Regions from separate parts of the Homo sapiens genome. Here all the other regions are reported to be linked to region 1. Evidence: microRNA targets listed by miRTarBase, many of them from high-throughput screens and not tested one by one. Region 1 holds a microRNA gene; each other region holds the end of a gene's coding sequence.

Region 1 (3,253 bases):
TTCTGCACAGAGACCATAACTTGTGAGGCTTCTCTGAAGCTCATTGCATTCTATATTCATTGCCTATTTTCTGATCCTTCTGGCCACTGCCGGTGTGATTCCCCAGCAGGCCCTCTCCATCAATATCCCTGTCCCAGAAATAGGAATTGACGGTGCACAAATAACTTCCTGGAATGCAGGACCATTCCTAAGTTATCACTAACACCCTACCAAGAGACTGTATCTAGAGACATTAACCTGAAATCTAGGACTCAGCAGCTTCTCTCCACAGGGCTCCTTCAGTGGTAGATGTCCCCTGTATGGTGTGGCCACCCTGAATGGCTCCTCCCTGGCCTTATCCCGTCCCTCAGCACCATCCCTGTGCTACTTTGTAGCTGGGGCCTCTGGCCTCTTGGCCCTCTACTGCCTCCTGCTTTTGCTCTTCTGGATCTACAGCAGCTGCATCGAGGACTCCCACAGGTGACTGCCTAACCCTGAGGGCCAGGGGCTGAGGTAGGATGAGCCTCACCTCCACCACAAGGCTTGTTCTCTCCCTTTCAGAGGTGCTATAGGGCTGCGCATTGCACTGGCCATCTCAGCTATAGCCGTCTTCCTGGTCTTGGTGTCTGCCTGTATCCTTCGATTTGGCACCAGGTCTCTCTGCAACTCCATCATCTCCTTGAACACTACAATTAGGTAATGGGAGAGGGAGGGAAGCCTGGCTGGGGCTGACTACCTTCCCTCTGCAGCGGGGTCCTATAATTTCCTTTTATCCCCATCAGTTGCTCTCAACTCACAGGGCACTGGGCACAGGTGTGCCTCGGATATAAACTATCACGCTTTCTCACAACTGTCTCTTTGACCTCACAGCTGTTCTGAAGCCCAGAAAATTCCATGGACACCCCCTGGAACTGCTCTGCAGTTTTACTCCAACCTACACAATGCTGAAGTGAGACCCAAGGATAGGAGGAAAAACTGACATAAATATCTGTAGCTGTGTGGGTGCTCACCAGTGTATTGTGAGCTTGGCCTACCAGTGAGAGGAGCTGAAGGGGTTGTCAGCTTAAAATTCAGCAGTTCAGAGTGGTGTGTGGGTGGGAAGGACTGGATTTGAAATGGTCCCACTCCTGACGATCCTGTCCCTGTCTCCTACAGACCTCTTCTTGGGTGAATTTGGTATTGTGGTGTGTGGTCTTGGTGCTCCAGGTCGTGCAGTGGAAGTCTGAAGCCACCCCATACCGGCCTCTGGAGAGGGGTGACCCTGAGTGGAGCTCTGAGACAGATGCTCTCGTTGGGTCACGCCTTTCCCATTCCTGAAGAATAAGCGGAGTGCTTCCTGCAGCCGAAGACTCCATGCCCAAGTGCCTGTAATCCCCCCCCTCAAGGCCCTGTTTATGTTGGGAGTCTTAGTTTTCCTTTCGTTGGGGGGTGGGGGGGAAACATAATGACAGGCCCCCCTCCACCTCTTCCTGCAGCTGTTTTTGTACCAAAATATTATATTACTGTCTTCATCTTAGTAGTGAGTTTTTGATGTTAAAGTACAACTAGATAGGAGGAAGGAGTGAAGGCTAAGCAGACATGGACTGAAACTTAGAGGTACTGTTAGGCAGCTGCCCTAGGGATGACTGCTCCTTTATTTGTTGTTAATGAATCTTGACCTCCTTGTGTGACCCTGGTTGTTACTCCATTCTAAGATTGGCGTTTTTTTTTGTTTTTTTTTTTGTAAATAGAGACAAGGTCTCGCTATGTTGCCCAGCCTGGGCTCGAGCAGTGCTCCTGCCTCACCCTCCCAAAGTGCTGGGATTACAACAGGTGTGAACCAACACACCTGGCTCCCCAAGGTTCAGTTTTTATCCTCCTCTTGGAGAGGTGAGTGACTTGAGGTCATTTCTTCACAAGCTCCGGTAGGCACCCACAGTATTGTCAAAGAGTTTTGTGTTAGGGAAGTGTCCAGTTTTGTCCAAGAGGAAATAGAAGCGTCGGCCTTTGACTTTCAGAGGTAGCATGGCAGGGACTTCACCCCGGTGGGCCATGCAAGATACCTGCTTCAAAGGAACTGTGAAATGGGCCCCCAAGCCAAAGGGGGCATGAGTGGTGAGGGTCACCTGCTGCCCTCCAGCTCGAAGCACCACTGAGCGCACAGACCGGAGAGAGAAGAGAAGACCAGCACCGAGTACGAGGGCTCCTGCAGGCAGGGCAGAGATTGGGGTGAGGGGTTTTCACTGGGCATCTAAGTACCGACCTTTCCAGTGCCCTCTGAATAAGAAATTTGTGGGATGAAAGTAGTATTTACTGAGCGCTTTTTTTTTTGAGACTGAGTCTCACTCTGCCGGCCAGGCTGGAGTGCAGTACTGAGCTCCTGTTATACCCAGTAATCTTGTTATTCCTCCCAACAACCTTAATAGATGTCCGTTTCCATTTTAATGGGAAGATGGAGAGCTTTAAGGACCTTGCTCAAGGTCGCAGAGTGAAGGGCAGCCCTCAGCCTAGGCTATGACAGGGCACGGCGCTCGGAGACATCACTGTTTCCCAATTTTTTTTTTTGAGAGGGGAGTCTCGCTCGGTCGCTTAGGCTGGAGTGCAGTGGCGTCATCTCGGCTCACTGCAACCTCCGCCTCCCAGGTTCAATTGATTCTCCTGCCTCAGCCTCCCGAGTAGCTGGGACTACAGGCGCTTGCTACCACGCCCAGCTAATTTTTTGTATTTTTAGTAGACACAGGGTTTGACGGTGTTAGCCAGGATGGTCTGGATGTCCTGACCTAGTGATCCGCCCGCCTCCGGCCTCCCAGCATTTGAGCCGCCGCGCCCGGCCAGTGTTTCACATTTCTGTGGGGTAAAGCCCGCCCGCCACTCTCGGATAGGGAGTCCCTGACTCTCCCTGCCTGTATAGGGAAGGTCGTGTCCCGCCACCCCACGTTGTCACAGTGGGAAGCCAGCCCACGTCTTACCGATGGCGCCGCAGCCGACGGCCAGACCGTAGCGCCAGAGCGCGGAGCGCAGGTCGAAGGGGCCACGATTTGGGACCTCCGCATCCAGAGGCTGCACCGGAACCGGGGGCCGGGACACGGCTGCCACAGCCATGGAAGCCCAGAAGACGCCCTGGCCCGCGCAGAACAGCCCGAGGATGGTGAAGAAGCGGCCCCGATCATGCTCAAAGAGCAGCACATCCCGTTGCAGCGTCGTGCCTTGCAGGGGCCGGCAGGTGAGCAGGGGCCGCAGCACGGCTAGCAGCCCCGTGGGCCATCGCCTCCAAGGCGCCGCCATGGCCAGCCGA
Region 2 (3,253 bases), not on the chromosome of region 1:
TGGAAAAATGTGACAGGTTCCTGAAGATGATATCCCTGTTTTACATTTTGCCCAAAGAGAACACAGAGATTCTTTTTATTTAAAGGGGACGGGGTGAAACATGAACATTTGAGGCTGATTCCCTGTGGGAAAAATCATTCAAATCTATTCACTCATCTGATGGCTGTTGCTTGTTTTATTTTTTGTCCAAGAGAGGTGGTGTTGGACCGAGGTAGAGAAGACAGTGGTACACCAGAAATAACCCAAAGGATTGCCCCTTCTGTAGAAGGCCCTTAGACTCCATGATGCCTTTCAGCTGGGTGCTATACTTGCACCTAACTCTGGGGGCTTCACTTTCTATCCCTACAATTACTCAAACAGATAAAAGGCTGGATGTTAACATGTAGTTATAAGGGGCGTGATCTAATAGTAAGGAATATCACTTCCCACAAGTCCTTCAAACAAGATTTGTGAGGAGCTGGATTTGTCAGCATGTCAGATCTTTTTGAAAACCAGAGAGTAGAATGTAAGCAATACCCTTGTCGTAATTAAAGACCAGACTCCATCCTTATACCACTGATGCCTCTGGTACCTTAATCCTTAAAATATTTAGTGACCCTTGCCTTCTAATTCTTGACACAAATATATAATGACCATTTTAGATCGGGGAACTCCCTTTCTTTGAAGGCAGTTTAGGGATTCCACAGATGGGCTTTGAACCTGCTAAATGTGTATGGAAAACTGAGTGAATTACAAATGTCTTTTTCTCAAAAGTGCGTTTCTGGTTTCTGTCAGATTCAACAGGTCTGTACCCAAGACAGGTTCTGAACCATTGCTTATGCAGAGCTTTTAGTATTAAAGAGGGAGAGTAAAAGAAATGTCAGAGTCCAGATTTATCACTGAACCCAATACTTTCTTACTCCCTGGGGCATCTCCTAATACTGATCCTAAAATGCTCCTGTTTCTGAGAAGCTAGGGCAAGACCTGCCTTACAAAGACCAGCCATTTTGCCTTATTCATAGGATCATAAGCAAGAGAACTGCATTCCAGGAAGAATGAAGGAAGAAGGAAGGCTGCTCACAGTAGCAGAAGGGAGGCAGGGGCCAAGCTGTTCAAGTCACATAAACTCTAAGAAGCCCAGTCAGCAAAATAAGTCTATCTTCAATTCTAGTTGAGTCCAGGACTCTGAGGAGCTGTGATTCACCCAGTTTTTCCTGCAAAAGGCACAGTCGCTAAACTAAATTGGTGCAATTCACTTCCTCTTGCCTCTCTGGTTCATTCCACCAATTGTGGTTGAGAAACACATCTTAGGGAAGAAACAGTATCTAAGCATTAAAGAGAAAATATCCCACTTTGCTCCTCTTCCTCCCTAACCCCGAACTGCTCTTACATACAAGATAATTTTTAAATTATAAGATTGGTATTAACACAATTATTGATAAAGAGAAACAATGACCAACTCATTAGCTAACGATGCTAGAATACTTATGCAAGCCCTAGAGTTAAGGGTCTTAGTGTGGACACCTTTCCAGAATTGGAAGGAAAACCAACCAGAAAGCTTATTACCCTGCAGCAGCTGAAAAGCTAAGCCACAGCCATTTTCCCTAAAGTTCTGTTTCTGGGAGAATGAGATCTTCAAGAATAACTCTTGCCCCTTGATGAGGCAGTCAAATTCAAACCAGTGATGGCAACAACTTGCAAACACGTAATTCCTGCCCTAATTTTCCAGCACTTAAAACAAAATCCCCACTCAATACAAAGTTTCTATGTGCCTCTTGCCTGAAATCAACAAGAAACAGCTCACCTCCCCAAAGACTCCTCTTTCTCTGCCAGGGCAAAAGCAATCTGCAGCCCAGAGATTCAAACCTAGACATACACATCCACAATTGTCTTAATCTCAGCAGTACTGGGAAAGCTTTGTACTCAACTTAACCTGTCATTTAACCCTTTCCACTAGTTCTCCCTTAACCAGACTGCTTCCTGTCTTGAAACAAAGAAAAAACCCCATATAATCCCCACTACCCTCATCCCCAGAACACAGCCCCTAGAAAACCTAGCTTGTACAGTTTGCACATAGCATGCTGTCTTCAAAGACCCTGCACACAAATACACAGACACATAAAGACAGTCAAGAGGAGAGAGGGGACTGTTCAAGGGGATAAAGTTTTTTTTGTTTTTCTGTTTTTCTGTGTGGGCCAGGGCTATTTGGGGGTATTAGATCATCTCTTAGCCTTGTAGTGTGATCTCTCAGCTGGATATATGTATGTGCAGGATGAAGGGAGTAGGAATAATGGGTAAAAAGGTTATTTTTTCAGCAGGTGAGGGTGAGAGGTGATGTATATACTGCTGATTGGCATAAGGAAGACAGACCCACACATGAACAAGGTCTGGCCCCCCTGGCTTTCATATGGATAAAAAAGGGGGCTCTGGATGCCTGATCACTATCTCTTGTTTCCTTGTTACTCTCTAACCCAGTGTTCACCAGAGTGTTTCATAGTCACCAGTTCTGTGGGATGTAAATAGAAAGGATACTGAGGTCAAATACATTTAGGAAACACTGCCTTAATAGAACCTTCAGTTGGGTCTACTGCAGAAATTTTCAGAGCCTTTAATATTCTAAAATGGCCTTTCTGTCTATATATAGAGAAAATATAATAGTAACAGTATGCAAGAGTGATACTCAAAATGTTTAACAACTGGTATAGCATAGACTCCAACCAATCAGAATGGATTTCAGCCATAAACTGCCAGTACCACTCTCCTCTTGAGAACAGCTCAGGCTGAATATCAGCCCATGTAGGATGCATTGCTTCCCAAAAGTTTTGCCCAAAGAACTCTATTTTTATGTGCTATCTCACAGAACTGGTGAGAAATGCTCTGGCCATTGCTGGGACCTCATCTTTCTAGGGATGGGGTCAGGGCTTATGATTCTGGCCACTGGGGTTCAGGAGAACGGCAGCCCTGGCAGTGACTCCTGGTAGCACCGGCTGATAGACTTGACCATAGCTGTAGTGGAAACAGATTTCAAAAGACAGATGTTCCTCTGTCCCAGCTGTTCCGGGGACTTTGTCCCTGGTGGGTGAGCAGGTGCCTGTCCAGGTGATGTTTTCGGCCAAAGCTCTTCTCACAGCGAGGGCACTGGAAGGGCTTCTCCCCAGTGTGGGTCAGCCAGTGTCTCACAAGGTGGTGCCTTCGGCCAAAGCTCTTCCCACATTCAGTGCACACGTGACACTTTGGCACTGGTGGGGCACGCTGCCGTTTCCTTGTGCCAGGG
Region 3 (3,253 bases), not on the chromosome of region 1:
ACTTTTAGTAATTGGTAGTTACCAATATTGTAGATATTGGTAGTATTACCAATAAAATATATGTCAAGGCCAGATGATATGTTTATCCAGAATAAAACTTAATTGCTTACTAGTAATCCCTTATAAAGGAAATAGGCAGACATGCTTTGACATTGTGACAACATGGAAAGTAAGTGGGTTGCTTTCAAAAGGGTTACATAATTGAGCAACTCTAAAACCTTTTTTCTTCTTCCTAGGTCTTAGTGGTGCAATGGCTAGTATAAGCGTGCGTTCGAGTACCCCAGGCTCTCCTACACATGTAAGCAGTGGATCGAATGCTAGTCGAAGGAGAAATGGACTCCATGATGTCGATTTGAACACTTTCATATCAGAAGAAATGGCACTCCACTTGGACAATGGTGGAACTAGAAAGCGTACCTCAGCCCAGTGTGGCGATGTCATTACAGACTCACCAACCCATAAACGCAACAGAATGATCTAAACTGCAAACATTTTCACACCCACCATGCTGCTTGAAAGCCACTTGATCCTCAACATATACTATAATTGCAAAGGAAACATGAGGCCATCTTCCCTTGTTCACTGTTTAAGACAAGTGAATTCTATAGTGGTTGCCATAAAAGGAAGTTCTAGGTATTTATAGTAGATGCCTCTTGTAATTATGGCTTTCTTAAAACTATAATCCTAGCAGAGGACATCAGATATTGTGTAGTCGTTAGCAAGATCATCATAGGCAAACATATATCCGTTCCAAGGCTAAAAGTGACCTTAACTGTATTTATTCTCAAAGGGAAAGGAAATATCAGATGTTTATTTGGTTATAGAATGCTTTTTTTTTTTTTGGGTCCATTTCCTGCTGTGTTGAGTATTTTGCTTCAACAGTATTGCCAGGTTCCTAAAATTGTCTAAAAACATGATTTGGCTTCCATTTTTGCAGCTGCACTGTACCATGCACCTGGTTTCTATATAGTAACAGTGTGCAATTCTAATTATTGGACTGTGCCCTGTTTTTAGTTTTCAAATCAATTTCTAATTCTGGTGATTGTGTGATGTAAAGAGGTGCTATGATGGTCATGCAATTAATACTAAATATTGAATCAATGCCCAGAGCTTTATTGGATTCACTTTGTGTGTGTTAGTGCTCTAAAGTAGCAGTATTATTATTAAACTGTCCCCAGAGTAACCCTGTAGGCCTAAAGTACTCAGTTTTAAGACAAACACTACTTCCCATGCGGGGTACTTTCCTTATGGTAAATGTAAACATGTAGACTGCATTCGAGGTGACCTAAAGTAGAGAGGTCATGAACTTTGAGAATGGGCTTCCTTTTTGGTTCAGTATTAGTGAGAGGGAGAGGGAGATGGATGGTGGGGTAGGTTTTCTAGTCTATCATTTTACATTTTTCATGGAGTCCCTGCTTAGTGCAGTTTCCATTGGAATGGGTGGAAGATGATAAAGCTCTCTTTTTTATCTACTAATAATGTGATTGCAACTTAAAATAGCAAAACCCAACTCTCCCTGTCCCTCCAATCCCTCTCCTAAAAAGTTCAGTTTGGAATCTCATTCTGGAAAAGATGGAATCGCATGGAGATTCTCTAGCTGTTAGGTAGACCTAAATAAAAAGTTCTCAATAGATTCCTCTTTTGAGTAAATATAAGACCTCTTGTAGCTACAATGTTTTAGAGCATGTTTCATCTTCATTTTTAATATCCTGAACTGAATGATAGTGTTTTTTTAGATGAAGAACTGATGTCAGCCTGCCAGGTACTGTAATTTATTCTATCATATTATTATATTATATATCAAGTAGGACAGTGAAAAATGTTTCCTTGCAAACTTGTAGTCCAGTATCAGTTACTTCCTATTTTTATCCTTAAAAGACCATTGCAAATCAGTGTAAGGGTTTTTCCAGTAATTACTCACAGCACTTTGTTAAAGTTTGCAATTTCTTCAGCCATTTAATAATATCTTTCTGTGAAGAAACTTTGCTGAGTTAACCATAAATGTTCATTCATTGACTGGGTGGGATGTGAATGGAATGTTAGAAATGTTGTGTGAATTGAAGTTCTGTATTCATTATAGATGTAGCCCTTATTTAAAAAAGTGAATTCCATACTAAAACTAGGAATGAAAGTGAGAGATTTCTAAACTTTTGCGAAAGTGGGTCATTTTTTGTTTGACTATAATAGCAGGAAGAATTATAGCAATCTGTCATTTTACCTGAAACAGACAAGCCTATGTATTATGAATACTTTCAAGCTTCCCTTTGGAATATACAAGACATGCGTTTGGAGTTACCTTTGTTTTTCTATCGTAAATTTAGATTCTGGAATTGGGGTTTGGTGGTGCAATGTGTTGCTCACAAGTGGCCAGAACTCCTATTCCTAAAAGGATTTTGAGATGGAGGAACACATATTTAATTCCCCTTTATGCCTTGGTTCTTGCTCCTCTTTCCACGTTGGATAACAATTTTTTGGTTGTTTTGTTTAAGTTGGTGCTCTGAAGCTTAATCTCAGTACCCTTTACTCTGAATTGTCAAATTTTGATAAAACGTGCCATTTTCTTTGGTAAGAGAAAGCAGGTCTTAATGTCTGCCAGAACACAATTTATATGCCTTATTGGCTTCATTAAACTTTTAGAAAACTTTAGCATTTGTTACTTTTTTCCATTGCGTTTACTTTCAAATGCACCTAATGAATTTGTCACCCAGTCGCAACTTTTCCCTTCTCTGTCCCATTGCTTTCTCCTTTCCCCGACGCACAGAATAAACATGAAGCTCAGCAGTAGAAGCGTAATGATTTCCCTCAGGAAAAACTTCTGACAGCTAGGTTTTTCAAGGGTTTCCCTGTGCTAGCTGAGATGCAAAACAAATCATGGAAGATTGCATACCTGTGTGGTATTTTAAAAACAAGTTGACTTTTTCAGTTTCTTGAACGGTTAAGGGTGGATTTAAAAACTAGACAGTTTAGTTTTGGGGAACAGAAGCTCTCTTCGTCTTAAGCCAGATTCTCTGATTCTTTTAGACGTCATAGCTCCTTAGTTCTGCTCCTGTCGCCCTAACTTGGCATGGGCAAGTTGAAGTTCATCCTTAGACTGCAGCGTTCTGAGCATGGCTGAAGTATTAAAATGTTTAATATTTTTTAGAGCAAAATTGTTGGAAAGCATTTGGCTGAATCTAAAGACCTGCAGTCAGATTCTTCAATGTGGTTTACCCAACTGGAGTAGTGATAAACACCTTAATCATAAAATGAATAA

What was found. The annotated mature microRNA hsa-miR-6748-5p reads UGUGGGUGGGAAGGACUGGAUU and lies in region 1 at 1,069-1,090, shown strand. An mRNA with a match to its seed (bases 2 to 7 or 8) in the 3' UTR can be bound and repressed. Matches are read on the target gene's strand: a 7mer-m8 pairs with bases 2 to 8, a 7mer-A1 pairs with bases 2 to 7 and ends in A, and an 8mer does both.
Region 2: the mRNA of ZNF641 is a reported target of hsa-miR-6748-5p. The part of its 3' UTR that is shown has no 7-base or 8-base seed match.
Region 3: the mRNA of HAPSTR1 is a reported target of hsa-miR-6748-5p. Seed matches in the 3' UTR shown: 7mer-m8 at 498-504.

The regions. Positions count from the first base shown.
Region 1 is chr11:62,788,752-62,792,004 of GRCh38, forward strand. It overlaps MIR6748 (microRNA 6748), which reads left to right and starts at 1,064; the gene lies at 1,064-1,134. TMEM179B (transmembrane protein 179B) reads left to right here. Exons shown (of 5, transcript NM_199337.3): 2 at 272-459; 3 at 541-675; 4 at 850-928; 5 at 1,135-1,649. The coding sequence ends at 1,296. TMEM223 (transmembrane protein 223) reads right to left here. Exons shown (of 2, transcript NM_001080501.3): 1 at 2,928-3,253; 2 at 1,220-2,164. The coding sequence starts at 3,243. The coding sequence ends at 1,872. RefSeq lists an enhancer at 2,655-3,164 and a silencer at 3,235-3,253.
Region 2 is chr12:48,339,970-48,343,222 of GRCh38, forward strand. It overlaps ZNF641 (zinc finger protein 641), which reads right to left. Exons shown (of 6, transcript NM_001172681.2): 6 at 1-3,253. The coding sequence ends at 3,004. Among named protein-coding and RNA genes, the nearest start is that of ZNF641, 9.3 kb to the right of the region's middle.
Region 3 is chr16:9,116,432-9,119,684 of GRCh38, forward strand. It overlaps HAPSTR1 (HUWE1 associated protein modifying stress responses), which reads left to right. Exons shown (of 4, transcript NM_014117.3): 4 at 237-3,253. The coding sequence ends at 481. Among named protein-coding and RNA genes, the nearest start is that of HAPSTR1, 26 kb to the left of the region's middle.